Linked DNA regions of Homo sapiens. The protein of the gene in region 2 interacts with the protein of the main gene of each other region in a pairwise test. Each region holds a gene or a part of one and is shown on either strand. Other genes may lie near its edges.

Region 1 (4,034 bases), on a different chromosome or scaffold from region 2:
AGGCCGAGGTTGGTGGATCACCTGAGGTCAGGAGTTTGAAACCAGCCTGAATAATATGATGAAATCCTGTCTCTACTAAAAATAAAAAAATTAGTCGGGTGTGGTGACCAGCACCTGTAATCCGCTACTCTGGAGGCTGAAGCAGGAGAATTGCTTGAACCCAGGAGGTGAAGACTGCAGTGAGTCAGGATTGTGCGAGTCAGGATTGCGCCACTGCACTCCACCCTGGGCAACAAGAGCAAAGCTCTGTCTCAAAAAAAAAAAAACAAAACATATATATATATATATACACACACACATATATATACGTATATATACATGTGTATATACGTATATACGTATATACACACACACACACATATATAAAGCAAATTGTGACCGTTGTGTAGTGAGAGAATGATTTTTTTTTTATTCCTTTCAGTCTTTTTCATGTGTCATTTGTGTATGAGAACTGTTGAAGCTTAGAGATGAATGACTTAGAAATTTTGTCTTGGATCTCAAAGGGTAGTAACATCTCAGAGGGTCAGTTCTACCCAGTGTTTGGACCTCAGTTTTCCAGAACCAGGCTCTCGATTTTTTTTTTTAAAGAAGCTTTATTAAGTTATGTTTTATATACCATAAAATTCACTCCATTCAATTAGATTTTTTTGGTTACATTTTGAACATTTCTGTCATCCCCCAAAGATCCCTGTGCCCATCCAGGCCTGCCTTTTGCATAACTCTAAGCGTGCACAGTCCCATTCCTGTTTGCAGTGTTCTCTCCTGGACCAGCTTTGAAGAATGCCATCCGGGACTTTGAGTACCCCTGCTCCACACTGTCAAAATCCTTTCAGAGAACTCTGCTCCCAGAAAACAAAAGCCAAGGAAACAGATTTGTTTTAGGCCCAGTGATAGAACTCTTCTCAAAGGAAAGGTGACATTTAGGTCTAGTTTATTCTCAGAACAGGGAAAAAAAAAAATCCTAGCAAGGAGCACAGCATGCATCAGTAGCTCAATGATTTATTCTGCCTCAGTAGGATGGGGTGGACTTACTGGGCAACCACTGACTTCATTTAATGGTAACCTGCAGGTGAGTGCATCAGATCTCTTCCTTGATCAAAGCTTTTAGCTTGTCTCATTGCCAACCAGATTTCTAAGAAACTTGTTACACAAATCAGAAAGGCAGGCTGTTACATCATTTGCTTACAGTTTGGAAGATTATTCTTTTAATAAATAGTTGAATGCCTGCTATGTGCCATGTACTCTTCTAGGTGTTAGTGACATTGTGCTGAACAGGACATGGAGCTTATACATGTTCTCCTGAGTGTATGCTCAAGTCACCTCATTGATTTGGCTGCTCTATTTAATCTTTATAGGGAGTTCTCTGTTTTTCTTCCTAATATTCCAAGATAACTTTTTTCTTGAATTTATGAAGTCCTGTTCATATATAACCCTACCTTATGATCATAGCATTTAAATAATTTTCTCCTCCCCCAAGTAGTAGTGTTTCTGGTTGCTACTTTTTAATGGCTGCATAGTTCAAGCAAGTGTACCGTAATTTTACTTAGCAAGTATTTGTTAAACATTTAGGTTGCTTCTAGTTACCTTTTAAATTGTCGCTATTATTGTGCTGTGGTGACCATATTCATGCATATGGCTTTTCTCGTATTTTGGTATATAACCTGATAATTTGTCAGTTTAAATATTAGAGATTCAAACATGTTTTTTAAATTATTAATCTACCTAATTACTTCCAAGAGATTAACAGTTGCTATCATGGAAGTGGTGAGAATATTTGGAGTTTTGGATTTGACTTTATTTTACAGATAACCAGACTTGTAGCTAGAGGTGACACTAAGCACCTGACTCCTCATCTAATGTTTTGTTTTCGTCTTTTATATTAGGCTGTGATTTTAGTGCTTTTGACCGACCAGTTGGTATGCTGAAGAATGCTTTGTGGGCCTTCGTGAACACCTTATTTTGTAGAAGTACGTTATGTCATACTGGCTTAGAAGTCATGTACCTGTATCCTCTCTCTCACTTTTACTGGAGAAAAAAAAAAAAGGAAATGAACGAAGAAGGATGCTGTTGTCAGAAGCAATTTTAAATGTTTTGGGACAGTGTCTTGTCCTAAGTGCTAATTTTAGTGCGATAATTACTAATAATACCTGCAAGTCTCCAAGAAAAGTTAAATTGTTGGTTATGTTACCAAAACACAGAATGGCCAGATTAAACAAAGGATGTCCTAAAATAGTAGTGTTGATGCTTAAAAGGTTAAACTGTTTTCTGTAAACTTTAGTTTTGTGAAATAGGGTTTTCTTAGTTATGCTTAATGAATTAGTCATATGATTATATGGAAATAGACATTAAACATGATAAGTTTTGGGAGTTGCAGACTTAATGTGGTCTCAGGATGTTTCCTTGGCAGGACTTTTTAAATACAGGTTGCATTCTGGGAGAAAGCCAGAGTTAGCAAATCTGTAATGCTGAAAAGTTGCCAGCCTAGAGAAAAATTATATCAGTTTTCAGGAAACAAGTTTATTTTTAAGTACTAAAAATGGTTTTAAATAGGCCTGGTGGAATAGTTGATACTTACTAATCAAACTAGATTATAAAAAAGAATGTTACTTTAAAGTAGAAGGTGGTTTTGTGGGTTGAGTATGAACCTTAGAATTCGATAGACTTGAGTTCAGATTATGGTTTTGATATTTCTGAGGTATGTGACTTTAAGCAAGTCTGTTAAACCTGATGTTCAGTGTATAAAGATGGGAGAGCCCAGTTCAGTTTCTGGCATGAAGCTAGCTGTTACCAGATTGAGGCTTTAAAACCTGCTATACTGCTTAAATAAAAATGTGTTAATTTTTATATCTTTTGTAATCAAATCAGTGTAGCCAAAATTCTGGAGAAGAAACTTTTTCACTGTGGTACAATAATTTTTATTCAAGTTATATACATACACATTGTGTTTTCTGTAACAAATTACTACAAATTTATTTGTTTAAAACACAAATATTTCCTTACAATTTCCATGAATCAGGAGTCCTGGTATGGGGTTAGCTGCTGGGCCCCCAGGGTCTTACCTTGCAGGAGCTGTGATTTCTTTCTTTTCTTTTTTTTTTTGAGACAGTCTTGCTCTGTCGCCAGGCTGGAGTGCAGTGGCACGATCTTGGCTCACTGCAACCTCCACCTCCCGGATTCAAGTGATTCTCCTGCCTCAGCCTCCCAAGTAGCTGGGACTACAGGTGTGCGCCACCACGCCCAGCTAATTTTTGTATTTTTAGTAGAGATGGGGTTTCATCATGTTGGCCAGGTTGGTCTCTATCTCTTGACCTTGTGATCTGCCCGCCTCGGCCTCCCAAAGTGCTGGGATTACAGGCGTGAGCCACTGTACCCGGCCCAGAGCTGTGATTTCATCCGTGTCTCCTTCCAAGTTCACTGGTAGAATGTGGTTCTTGTGATTATAGGACTGAGGTCCCCCATTTCTTGCTGGTCGTCAACTGGTGACTGCTTTCAGCTCCTAGAAGCTGCCCTCAAGCCCCTGCCACATGGTACCTTTCGCATGCCTTCTCACAACATCTTAGTCTGAAGAATTGGCAAGAGAATCTCTTGGGAAGGACTCAGTTCTGCTTTCTCTGATTAAGTCATGCCCAGGCTCACCCAGGATAATCTGTCTTTAGCTTGAATTCACCTTACTTGGAATCTTCATTACATCTGAACGTCTTTCCTCCTTTGTCATATGATTTAACCTAATAATGGGAATGAAATACATCACATTCACAGCCCTGCCTGCGCACATGGGGAAGGGGGTTGTACAGGAGATGGACACCAGAGGTAATCTTGGGCAACCTATGTATGGGACTGCCTGCCCCACACACACACACACACACACACACACACACACACACACACACACAATGTGTGTGTGTGATTTTATTTTACCTAGTAGTAAAAATTGTACCTCATTTTAATCAAGCCCATCTATGGTTTTGTCCCAGACTTATTTTGAATATAGCTTTTCTCCATTATATTGGTCCATCCTTTTTAAGACAAATGGA
Region 2 (4,034 bases):
GATTCTTTTGCCTCAGCCTCCCAAGTAGCTGGAATTACAGGCATGCGCCACCATACCCGGCCTATTTATTTATTTATTTATTTATTTATTTATTTTTGAGATTAAGTCTCGCTCTATACCCCAGGCTGGAGTGCAGTGGCATGATCTCAGCTCACCGCAATCTCTGCCTCCTGGGTTCAAGCGATTCTCCTGCCTCAGCCTCCCGAGTAGCTGGGATTACAGGCACGCCGTCACTGCACCCGGCTAATTTTTTTGTATTTTTAGTAGATACGGGGTTTCACCATGTTGGCCAGGCTGGTCTTGAACTCCCAACCTCCAGTAATCCGCCTGCCACAGCCTCCCGAAGTGCTCGGATTATAGGCGTGAGCCACCGCTCCCGGCTAGATCTGTTCTCTTTCTGTCATCACTCTCTTCCCTCCGTCGGCCACCCTGGATGGGCCCTGTGTCCCACATTCTCTTTTTTTTTTTTGAGACGGAGTCTTGCTCTGTCACCCAGACTGGAGTGCAGTGGCCTGGGTTCACGCCATTCTCCTGCCTCAGCCTCCCAAGTAGCTGGGACTACAGGCACCCGCCACCACGCCTGGCTAATTTTTTTGTCTTTTTAGTAGAGATGGGGTTTCACCATGTTAGCCAGGATGGTCTCGATCTCTTGACCTCATGATCCGCCCGCCTCGGCCTCCCAAAGTGCGGGATTACAGGCGTGAGCCACCGTGCCCGGCCGTGTCCCACATTCTCACACGCATGAATGGATTGGAGCTGTGGTTGGCACAGTGAAGCCCCTCTGCACCCCAACACACACAATCTCCAGTGTGAGCCCTGACCCCCTCGGCTAAGGTTCACACCTGCTGTGCCCAGCACCTGACATCTGAGTGCTCAGAGGTGCCAAGTGCTGTGCTGAGGGCTTTGAAGGTGATTTCTCCTCAGTCCTGGACAATCCCAGGAGGGCCAGGTGTTATTACATCCATTGTACACACCAGGAAGTGGGCTCCTCTGAGGTGCAGGGCCCCGCCCAAGGCCATACAGTTAGTGGGGTAGAGCTTTGATGTCCACTATAGGGGTGTCCACCTTCAAGGCTTTGAAGTAGAGCCCTTCAGTGCCTCAGTGGGAGACCCGCTGCCGGGTGCTCTCCTGCCCTCCTCCTGGGGTGGGAGAGGATGAGGGAAGGGTAGAAAGGATGTGTTGTGTTGACAGAGCCTGGGACACCCAGCCCACTCCTCTGGCCAGGCATCCCACAGGAAGTGGGAGGTATCGGAGCTGTAGCACCACCTGGGGCTCATGTGGGGCTGGTGGGTGTGCTGGGCCCTGGTACAGGAGCTAGGAGCACCTGGGTTCTGGGCCTGGGTGTGTGGGGGCTGGGCCTTCCTCTTCTGAGGCCTTGGTGCCACCAGAGGAGCTGCTCCTTCATGTTCAGCGGCTGCTCCCTAGCAACCCAGCGCAGCTTTGCATAAGCAATGAGGCCTCGCCAGCTCTGGGCAGGAGGGGTTCCCTGGGGAGGGTGGAGCTGACTTGGGGGCTGCTGCCACTGCTATAACTGGGCTCTTCCCCCCTGTCCTTCATGCCTGCCTGTCTCTTCCTCCTGGGTTCAAATGGCCCATTGGTGGAGGATGAGGAAGGAGAGAGGGGAGGGGAGTGCCAAAGCCTGTGACCTGAAATGCCCCCAGCTCACCTGGGATGATTCCATGTTCTCCCCACAGCCATGGGCCTAGGACAGTCCCAGCAGCTCCTGAGTGCCCCTTCCTAGGGCCTGAGCCCCTTTTTCAGAAGTCCTGGTATCTGATGTATGTCCTCCTGTCTCCATCCCCAGTTCTGGCATAAAGCATGCTTCCATTGCGAGACCTGCAAGATGACACTGAACATGAAGAACTACAAGGGCTACGAGAAGAAGCCCTACTGCAACGCGTGAGTCCTGTTCTGGGCAGGGGGCTGGGTGGGCACCTTGGCTCCCTCCCCGAGTGAGTTCTTCCTTTCCTTCCAATAACCGCAAGGTGACATTGGCGAACACTTCCATCCCCTACTTGAACATCACAGTTTGTCCTCACAACAGCTGAATGAAGCAAGCACTTTTTATCCCCATTTAAAGTGCTTTTATCCCCCATTTAAAGTGCATTTAAAGTACAGATGAGGAAACTGGGGCTTAGGGAAGGGAAGAGACTCTCAAGGTGGGATGGCTAGGGCAAGACAGGCTCTAACCCAATTTCGGGCAGTAAGGCGAGCACGTTTCTTTCCACTGTCCCCTGCTACAAAAGAGGGGGCTTTCCTCGTGGTCTTTCAAGAATGAGTGACGTGTCTGTTGTATTTGGGGTTGAGGACTTTGTTCTGTTTACCTTCCCTTATTTCTCTCCTCAAAATCGACAGTTTCCTTCTCTCACCTGGGTACTTCTAGGCTTTGGGGGCTCCTTCCTCCAGTGGTTCCTTCAAGAAAACTCTCTGGAAGCCTCATGCCAGCCCTTTTGGTGTTCATTTTTTGAGAATGGGCAGGGGTGCATAAAGGGTGTTGCCTGGGCCAGATAGATCTCTTCCCTGCCTGGTGAGGGAGGCTGTGGAGACTGTTTCTTTTGAGTATAGTCATCTTGAGTATAGTGCAGCTCTGTTCCTTCTGCACTGGGACCTGCAGCAGCTGACGGTAGGGAGGGAGTATAGAGGTGGGGTCCCCCATCCCAGAGCCTGGAGGAATACCTCCCCTCCCATCCCATCCCATCCCATCCCATGCAATCCCAGAAAGTACAGCAATTTTCCATCTTCCAATTGACCTTGTGAGTAGCAAGTACAAACTCAGTGTTGGGGCCTCACAGCCGCCTCCACCTGCGAGGTGGAGGCTTTGGAAGGTCAAGTCACTTATAAGTAATGATGTAATGATAATTTCTTTTTCTTTTAATTTGCTTTTTTTTTTTTTTTTGAGTCAGAGGACTCATCACCCAGGTTGGAGTGCAGTGGCGCGATCTTGGCTCACTGCAACCTCCGCCTCTTGGATTCAAGCGATTCTTGTACCTAAGCCTCCTGAGTAGCTGGGATTACAGATGCATGCTACCATGCCCAGCTAATTTTTGTATTTTTTAGTAGAGACCGGGGTTTCACCGTGTTGGCCAGGCTGGTCTCGAACTCCTGACCTCAAGTGATGCACCGCCTCAGCCTCCCAAAGTGCTGGGATTACAGGTATAAGCCACCTCGCCCAGCCTTAATTCGATTTTTTTTTTAATTTTAACTTTTTTTTTTTTAACTTCAACCAACTCAAGTAATGGTAATTTCAGTGTTCACATGAATTTAGGATCTGACTTGAGTCCAGTTTTTTTTTTTTTTCTCTTAATTCTCAGTCAGGAGGCTCTTTGCAGCTGAAGTTCACCCAGGGAAAAAAAAATTTGGGACTTGTCTAAAAAGGGGGCTTAAACCTCCAGCCTTACCCCTAACCTTACCCCAAACCTTCCTTGCTTCCTTACCCCCTCCCGTTCCCTGGCTAAGACCACTCTTTCATCTTTTTAGGGGCTCGCTCATTCAGCAGACATTTATTGCCTGCCTGCTGCTATAATACATACTAACCTGCACCAGGTGCTGGGAAAACAGATTCCTGATAAAAATCTCAAGCCCAAGAAGCAACATGAAGTTGTCCCTTCTGGAAGAAGGAGGGCACTGGGCAGGTTATCTGGGTAAAGGAAGGGTTGCAGCTCTGTCCTGGCCCCTCCTTCAGCTGCCCCTTCTCTTCTATTAATTTCTACTGTTCCTCTTCCCCCTACCAACCCCTCCCACCCCCACAAGGGAAATGGGACATTCTTCGAATTCTTAAGGGCTCACACAAGCCCTGGTTCTCTGCCACTTCCTCCCTCCATTGGGTAGTGGGGTGGGGTTCAGAGAAGCCAGGGCAGTTAACCCCTCCGTTGCTGGACCACCTCAGGCTAGATTCTGAGCCTCCGCCCCAGCACGCAGAAGTCTGACCGAGCCTTGGAGCCCAGTGACTCAAGCAGCCTAGAATTCAGTGAGCACTGGGAGCTGGAGAAAAATCAGAGGCTTGTCCTTGTTTTCTCTGCGTTTTATCAGCCTCA
Region 3 (4,034 bases), on a different chromosome or scaffold from region 2:
AAGTTTAAAACAGTTTCTTACAACAAAAAATAATAGCTTTTAAGTCAAAATATGTAATGTAGGAAATGTCGGAATTCAGTGAAAATGAGTGACCTTTACATAGGCTTAGCTGTTCACTGGTAGCAGCAAAAATAGGCCCTTGAGTCCAAGCTAGACTTGAATTCTGATTCTTCCAGACTTTGTGCAGTGAAGTCAGATGAGGGTAACAGGACCTAGCGTGTGATACCCTTAGCACTCTTACTACTCTTGCTAAGTAATTATGTGATTAGAGTTTGGAATGAAACTTCCAGAAATGTTATAATTGAGGCTTGGCGCGGTGGCTTATGCCTGTAATCCCAGCACTTCGGGAGGCTGAGGTGGGTGGATCATGAGGTCAGGAGTTCGAGACCAGCCTGGTCACCATGGTGAAACCTTGTCTCTACTAAAAATACAAAAATTAGCTGGGCGTGGTGGTAGATGCCTGTAATCCCAGCTACTCGGAAGGCTGAGGCAGGAGAATCGCTTGAAACGGAGGTTGCAGTGAGCCGAGGTCGCGCCACTGCACTCTAGCCTGGGCAACAAGAGTGAAACTCTGTCCCCCTCCAAAAAATAAATAAAAATAAAATATATAATTGTTACCTATCAAAATTCTGAGGGAAAGCCAGGCGTGGTGGCTCACACCTATAATCCCAGCACTTTGGGAGGCCGAGGCGGGTGGATCAACTGAAATCAGGAGTTCAAGACCAGCCTGGCTAACGTGATGAAACCCCGTCTCTACTAAAAATAGAAAAATTAGCCAGGTGTGGTGACACACACCTGTAATCCCAGCTCTTCGGAAGGCTGAGGCAGGAGAATCGCTTGAACCTGGGAGGCAGAGGTTGCAGTGAGCCAAGATCATGCCATTGCACTCCAGCCTGGGCGATGAAAGTGAAACTCTGTCTCAAAAGACGACAACGATAAAAAAAACAAAGTTCTGCGGGAAGAAGACAACTAGAGACATGCTGTTGGCCACACATAGTGCTCTTGGGGCTGCTTAAGTCTGTGGAGTTCTGGGGAAGAAGGTAAGAGCGATGGCTTTGCAGGAGCTCTAGTGATTGTCGCTACTTCAGTTGATGACATGAGATTGTTCTTTATTTTTCTTCAGCTGGTTTTCCCATGGGCTATGCAGCAGCAGCTCCTGCCTATTCTCCTAACATGTATCCTGGAGCGAATCCTACCTTCCAAACAGGTATGTGCTGGGTGGTAAAATGCTTTGTACGTACAGCTGGGAGAGAAAGGTGAAGGGGTGGATTTTGAGAGGGGTGGGTATAGAATTAGGACTTGGTTGAGTCGATTTCTCAAGTTCATTAAGTTAGCCTGTTGATAAGTGCAACAAAAGCTTAATTCTTACTGCACTGAAGCTTTATATACTGTGTTTCTCATGTCCTCCCACAAGGCAAATCTGTAATCACTAGGTTGTTAACTCTGCCAGAGCATCTGTTCATGAAATAGTATCACCTACTAGAAATTGAAGAATTTCTTGCCATGCCAACAGGTGGAATTTCCATGTTAATGTTTTTAGAGATAATTTTTGGTTAGACTACTTTAGCACTCTGATAATATTTTTTAAAAAAGTATTATTTTCCATGTAATGTATAGATGAATATTTTTAGATTTTGGAAATCACTGTTAATATTAAAAGTGGAATTGGTTTGGGTCTGAATCTTGAGGAGATTGGTTATTTAGTGGGATTTCCTGCTAGGAGCCTGCACTCTCTGGTGTTGGTTCCTTTTGGACTTTTTTCACCCACACGGGGCTTTGCCTTTCTGCCGCAGCAGTGGTGGTGCACACTCTGATCTGAGGCTGTGGTTTGGCCTTAATCCTGGGACTGCTGGGGCAACTTTATCCCTCAACAGTAGCTTCACACAGTTAACTTTGACAGAGGAGGAGACAACAGCAGTGTCCTTTCCCCAGATTCTTCCTGTTTTGTTAATCATAAAATTCTGCCTTTATATTCTGTCCTTACATCCATCTCTTCGTTTCCATTTCCACTTCCACTATGACCCTATATGACCACCCTTGTTCAGACCGTAGTTCACACCCTGAGAAAAACGTTCTTGACTTGGTCTTCCTGCTCCCAAGCTTTCTTTCCCCGGGTTAGTGTTCTTCCCATTTAAACCAGAGCGATGCTCCCAGATGAATTTTTCTCAGTGGTTTCCCATGACTGTGAGACACAGTTATGCCTAGAGTCTCGACTTTCAGTCCCTAGCTGTTTGCCATATTGGCCCATTTTTTCCCTTTAGAGTGGTTTTCCTTTTGTGTTTTGCCTTGAAAGAACCATCCATCTCGTAGTGTATATTAGCAGTTCATTCCTTTTTATTGTTAGGTAGTATTTTGTTGTATGGAAATAAATACTTCAGTTTGCTTATCCATTTACCATGTGATGAACATTTGGGTTATTTGCAATTTTGGGCTATTACAAATGAAAATGCTATTAATATTTATATGCAGGTTATTGTGTGAACATACACTTTGATTTCTCTTGAGTAAATAAATACAGAGGATTTGAGTGGCTGGTTATTATGGCAAGTGTATATTTAACTTTGTGAGAAACTGCCAAACTGTCTTCCAAAGTGGTGGTACCATTTTACATTCCTACCAGCAGTGTTTGTGAGTTGTCGTTCCTCCACATCCTTAACAACACTTGGTGTGGTCAGTCTTTTTAATTCTAGCCATTCTAGTGAATGTGTAGCAGTATCTTTTCATGTGCGTATTTGCCTTCTGTATGTCTTTGGTGAAGAATTTGCTTTTACTGTATGTCAGTTATTGTTTTCTTATCGTTGAGTTTTTGAGAGTTCTTATCAGATATATGCGTGTTTTCTCCCAGTCTGTGGCTTTTTCATTCTTTTAACAACGTCTTTTAAAGAGCAGGGGTTTTAAAAGTTTAGGCTGGGCGCGGTGGCTCACGTCTGTAATCCCAGCAATTTGGGAGGCTGAGGCGGGTGGATCATGAGGTCAGGAGTTCGAGACCAGCCTGGCCAACGTGGTGAAACCCCGTCTCTACTAAAAATACAAAAATTAGCTGGGCTTGGAGGCGCACTCCGGTAATCCCGGCTACTAGGGAGGCTGAGGCAGGAGAATCACTTGAACCCAGGAGACAGAGGTTGCAGTGAGCCGAGATCGTGCCATAGCATTCCAGCCTGGGCGACAGGGTGAGACTCCGTCTCAACCAAAAAAAAAAAAGTTTGATGAGGGTTAGTCGTTTTATGGATCATGCTTTTGGTACCATACTTAATAAACCTGTGTAACTTGGCTGGGCGCAGTGGCTCACGCCTGTCGTCCCAGCACTTTGGGAGGCCGGGGTGGGTGGATCATGAGGTCAGGAGATCGAGACCATCCTGGCTAACGCGGTGAAACCCCCTCTCTACTAAAAATACAAAAAATTAGCTGGTCATGGTGGCGGGCTCCTGTAGTCCCAGCTACTCCAGAGGCTGAGGCAGGAGAATGGCCAGAACCTGGAAGGCGGAGCTTGCAGTGAGCCGAGATTGCGCCACTGCACTCCAGCCTGAGCGACAGAGCAGGACTCCGTCCCCAAAAAAAAAAACAAAAGAGAAAGAAACCTGTGTAACCTAACTTCACAAAGATTTTCTTCTTTTTTCTTGTAGAAGTTTTACACTTGTAGGTTTTACATTTATGTCTGTGACCCATTTGCAGTTAATTTTTGTGTATGATGGTAGGAATGGATTGAAGTTTATATCTTTGGCATACGTATCAATGTGGCATGTGATGATCATGCCGTAGACCACCATAACGTAAGTTACTCTTCTAGGATTTTCAGAGGTAGCCCACTTTTACTCATTTCTTCATGGAGCACAAATCAGTGTGAAAATGTACTTAAAACTTTCAACTTTTTTATTTTACAAGAAGAACCTTGAGTTAATTTCAGGCTGAGAGCTGTTCTTGCCAAAAATGTGCAGCACTGCCTAGCAGAGGCAGGGTGGAGACTGAGTGCTGCTGACACCTTCCCCCCTTGGGTGCCTGTGGGGGCCACCCTGTGGAACATGGGCCACCCATCT
Region 4 (4,034 bases), on a different chromosome or scaffold from region 2:
TTTCCCATCAGAAAAATCAGTTTCCACCCGCAAGAGACTCCGGTCATTTTCATGTGTGTGACGTTCTGGGTGTATAGGAGGCATACTGAGTGGTGGTGGTTATTGTTTTTATCTTTATTTTTTAAAAGGGAAAGAATGAAAGCAGCGAGTTTTCTCCATGTCGTTACCTTTTGAACCTACGAAGCTCCCTGAGCATAGGGAGCATGAGCTTGTCTGTGATTCGGCAAGGCCTTGGTCACTGCGGCGCAGACGCAGGCCTCACACCGGCCAGGCCTGTTACACGCTTTGCACGCTTTACACTTCCCACCGTACCTTCAGGAGGTGGGCCTTGCTCTTATCATGCCCATTTTGCAGATTTTGAAACTGAGGCACGGAGAGGCAGCGTCACTTGCTCATTGACCACATGCCTGGGTCAGGGCTGCTCCCTGACACGTGTGGGGAGCCCCTGAGCAGCAGAGGGGAAAGCTGGGAGGCCTGAGAGACCAGACCCTCGGAATCCATTGCTCAGTGGCCTGAGGGTTGCAAGTGCCCAGGGGGGTTGCAAGCAGCCCGGGGCGTGAAAGCTCACTGTGGGCCTGACCGCTGTGGCCGAGCAATGCGCCGTCACTCAGGAGGTGATGTGTAGCCACAACAGCCCCGCAAAGTGCCTGGAAACAGACCTCTGGGCCCGGCTCCTGGAGGCCGTGTCGGCTGGGGGCTCTGCACATCTCGGTCACACGGGGTCCAGGCCATTGAGGCTCTGCCTGGCCACGCGTGCCTATAGTCATGGCAGCCAGGGAAGACGCAGAGGCAGGTCGAGAGCTGGCTCTCCACATTCCTACCTGGCAGGCACGTATGTCCCAAAGCCAGTCTCAGGACTGTGCCATTCCCAAGGGGCAGAAGGGCAGCCCTGCCTCGGGTCTGGAAGGAGGAAAGTGAGAAATGGGAAGCAGTAGTGTCAGGGGCAGGGTGCCAGCCCCGGACCATGAAGGGAACAGTGGGGTAGAGATGGGCTCGGGGGCACGCGCTGCCAGGAGGGGCGGGCAGGAGTGTGGCGGGGGCGGGGCAGCCCACGGGGTGTGGGGATCGGGCTACAGAGATGTCTACAGGGCAGCTCCCGCTCTCTGCTGGGGGGTGTACGTGGGACTGTGGGCTGCCACCCCTGCCACCACCACACCTGCCCAGTGGCCAGGTGTCATACTGGACTCTCGGGCTGGTGACTGGTGGGGCTCCTGAGACCAGAATTGTCAGCTTTATGCCCAGTTCAGAAACGTGGAAAAATGCAAGCGTGTTGCCTGGTGTGTGGAAAGGTTCCATGGACAGTCCGCGACAGTCATATCACTGTGTGGCTAAGAGAGGGGAATCACACAGGCCTGGGCTCGGGCCGGGAGCATGTGGGCAAATGCACCTGCCCTCCCCCCAACCCAGCAGAGCCTGGCTCAGGTGCCTGGAAGACCCCAATGAGGCAGAGGCTGTGGTCACTGCCGCTGTGGCTGATGCCGGCCTCAGGAAGCCCCCCAGTGCAACGCCATGACCCTTGCGTTCACCACGAGGAAGTGGTTCCAGGAGGCTGCATGGCTGCCAGGTGTGAGCCAGGATTCCAGGCCAGGTCTTCAGGGCTCCAGGGCCATGCACCTGAGCTGCCCCACCTGCCTCCAGGCTCAGGAATGTGTCCTCAGTGCGTGCTGCCCATCAGAGGAAGCAGTGTGGCCTCCCAACCTCCAAGGTCCAGCCTACCCCCATAGGCTGTGCCCACCTGGTCCCTTGGAGCTCGGAGAACCAGCGCCTGCCCAGTCCCATCCTGTGTCCAGCCTCCGGCCTCAGACATGGCTGGCTCCCAGTGGTCAGGACTGGCTGTGCCACTGATCCACTGTGCTCCTGGCTGCGTCGCTGTCCTTGCCTGCTGTGTCCTGGGAGCTGTACTGGAGCCCCGGCCAGACATATGCAAAGGGGTAGGGGGGTGGACACCCGCGGGGGCAGGGGAGAGCAGCCTCACGAGACCTCACTTCTGCCCTTCCCCCAGGACCCCACAGCCGCCCAGCATGGCCCAGCGGCACTCAGACAGCTCCTTGGAGGAGAAGCTCCTGGGACACCGCTTCCACTCGGAGCTCCGGCTCGATGCCGGGGGGAACCCAGCCTCCGGGCTCCCAATGGTCCGTGGCTCCCCGCGTGTTAGAGACGATGCCGCCTTCCAGCCCCAGGTCCCGGCACCCCCACAGCCTCGGCCCCCGGGGCACGAGGAGCCATGGCCCATCGTCCTGAGCACAGAGAGCCCGGCGGCCCTCAAGCTGGGCACCCAACAGCTGATCCCTAAGAGCCTGGCTGTGGCCAGCAAGGCAAAGACCCCAGCCCGCCACCAGAGCTTCGGGGCGGCTGTACTTAGCAGGGAGGCCGCCCGGCGGGACCCTAAGCTCCTCCCAGCCCCCAGCTTCTCCCTGGATGACATGGACGTGGACAAGGACCCCGGGGGCATGCTGAGGCGGAACCTGCGGAACCAATCCTACCGGGCGGCCATGAAGGGCCTGGGGAAGCCAGGTGGCCAGGGAGATGCCATCCAGCTAAGCCCTAAGCTCCAGGCTCTGGCTGAGGAACCCAGCCAGCCTCATACTCGGAGCCCGGCCAAAAACAAGGTAGGGGCCTGCTCGTGTGGACCGTGGGGAGGGGGCTGCTAGGCAGAGGGGCGGCCTGGCCGTCTCCACCACCGTCATCTTCTGCATCATGGCAGCTGCCGTTAGTAAGCACCTGCTGCATGAGGGCTCTCGACTGGTTTATTCCAGTTCAGCCCAGTCTGTGAGTGTGAAGATCCCACCTTACAGATGAGGCAGCAGAGGCTCGGAAAGGTCGAGGGTTCTACCGAGGCCCCCAGACTCTGGTGTCCCCGCTCCCAGCCTTGGTGGAGGGCAGATCCCTGGAAGGGCCCAGTCCCTGTTTCCGAGCTCTGGACAGGAGCCGGCCTGCCTGGATGATAGGGTTCAGGGTGACCTGGCTGCAGTGACTGGCCTGGGCTCCATCTGCCCCGGCAGCTCCAGACAGGGACTCAGGCGGGAGGGACTGAAGCGGGGCAGCTGTGCGGTGGCCTGGGGCTTAGGAGAAGTCTGCACATTCCCTCTGTACACAGAGCCCTGCTTCCCTGCCTGCTGGTGGTGGCTCTAGGTCTGGGGCATGGTGGCGGCAGACCCTTTGCTGGGCAGGGTGTAGCCTGACTGCATGTGTCACTAGGGCCCAGGGGACAGAGCGTCCAGCTGGGGCTCCTGGGCCCAGTGTCCCTCATCCTCGGAGTCACCATCCCCTGCGGCTGGGGGCCAGGCCTTCATTTCAGGCAGCCCTGGAGCTGGAAGCCACGTTCAGGGAGAGTTGCGTGGTACCTGGACACCCACCCAGCCAGGACTGCGACTCTGGCCACCCTGCTTGGTCTCTTTAGCTGGTGGGTCTGGGCTCAGGCAGGGCTGGGGTAGGGGAGGCGAGCTGCCCTGGAACCGCCCATCAGGAGGCCCTGGCAGCCCGAGCACCCTCAAGAATGCAGAGCAGATGCAGGGCTGGCCCCAGGGGCGTCCTTCTTGTTGGGCGCCTTGCTCAGACGTGTTGGAAAACAGGCCCCAAGCATATGGGCTGCCTCAGTGAAGGACGAGGGCGGGGGCAGGTGCTGTGTGACCCAGATGAGTTCCTGAACCTTCCTGAGCCTTGGCTTCCCCATGTGGAAGCAAAGATCACAGCCGCCCTCTGGGCATCCTCTGGGCAGTGTCCACGGAAGGTGTGTGCCAGAGCGTCTTCTTCACTGGTTGCCGTCCCAGCTGCCTCCTCAGGCCCAGCTCCTGCCCAGACTGGGAGTGGCAGTGCCAGCCTCAGGAGACGCCAAGACCACCTGTCAGAATGTCCCATGGGCGTCCACTGCAGGCCGATGGTGGCTGAGGTGGGGTCCCCCATGTCCCCAGCACCAGCCACTGTCCTCGGTCACAGCTCTCTCTTGTGCCTACCTGAGACGCCCAGGACTCAGAAATGCCTCAGCACCTCTGCCGCAGGCCCCTGCACCCCAGCAGCTGGAAGGGCCCCAGCAC

The links. The genes of interacting proteins can lie anywhere in the genome.
Region 1: the proteins of LASP1 (region 2) and RNF38 interact in binary tests that used the Homo sapiens proteins (3 or more experiments, as listed by UniProt).
Region 3: the proteins of LASP1 (region 2) and FAM168B interact in binary tests that used the Homo sapiens proteins (3 or more experiments, as listed by UniProt).
Region 4: the proteins of LASP1 (region 2) and ARHGEF16 interact in binary tests that used the Homo sapiens proteins (3 or more experiments, as listed by UniProt).

What each region holds. Positions count from the first base shown.
Region 1 is NC_000009.12:36,393,337-36,397,370, reverse strand, and holds part of RNF38 (E3 ubiquitin-protein ligase RNF38), read left to right. Parts: intron 1-1,883; exon of another isoform or gene 1,884-1,967; intron 1,968-3,756; exon of another isoform or gene 3,757-3,810; intron 3,811-4,034. UniProt on the Homo sapiens protein: Acts as an E3 ubiquitin-protein ligase able to ubiquitinate p53/TP53 which promotes its relocalization to discrete foci associated with PML nuclear bodies. Exhibits preference for UBE2D2 as a E2 enzyme.
Region 2 is NC_000017.11:38,876,282-38,880,315, forward strand, and holds part of LASP1 (LIM and SH3 domain protein 1), read left to right. Parts: intron 1-1,804; coding exon 1,805-1,899; intron 1,900-4,034. UniProt on the Homo sapiens protein: Plays an important role in the regulation of dynamic actin-based, cytoskeletal activities.
Region 3 is NC_000002.12:131,069,028-131,073,061, reverse strand, and holds part of FAM168B (myelin-associated neurite-outgrowth inhibitor), read left to right. Parts: exon of another isoform or gene 1-1,040; intron 1,041-1,123; coding exon 1,124-1,207; intron 1,208-4,034. UniProt on the Homo sapiens protein: Inhibitor of neuronal axonal outgrowth. Acts as a negative regulator of CDC42 and STAT3 and a positive regulator of STMN2. Positive regulator of CDC27.
Region 4 is NC_000001.11:3,461,064-3,465,097, forward strand, and holds part of ARHGEF16 (rho guanine nucleotide exchange factor 16), read left to right. Parts: intron 1-2,002; coding exon of another isoform or gene 2,003-2,021; coding exon 2,022-2,609; intron 2,610-4,034. UniProt on the Homo sapiens protein: Guanyl-nucleotide exchange factor of the RHOG GTPase stimulating the exchange of RHOG-associated GDP for GTP. May play a role in chemotactic cell migration by mediating the activation of RAC1 by EPHA2.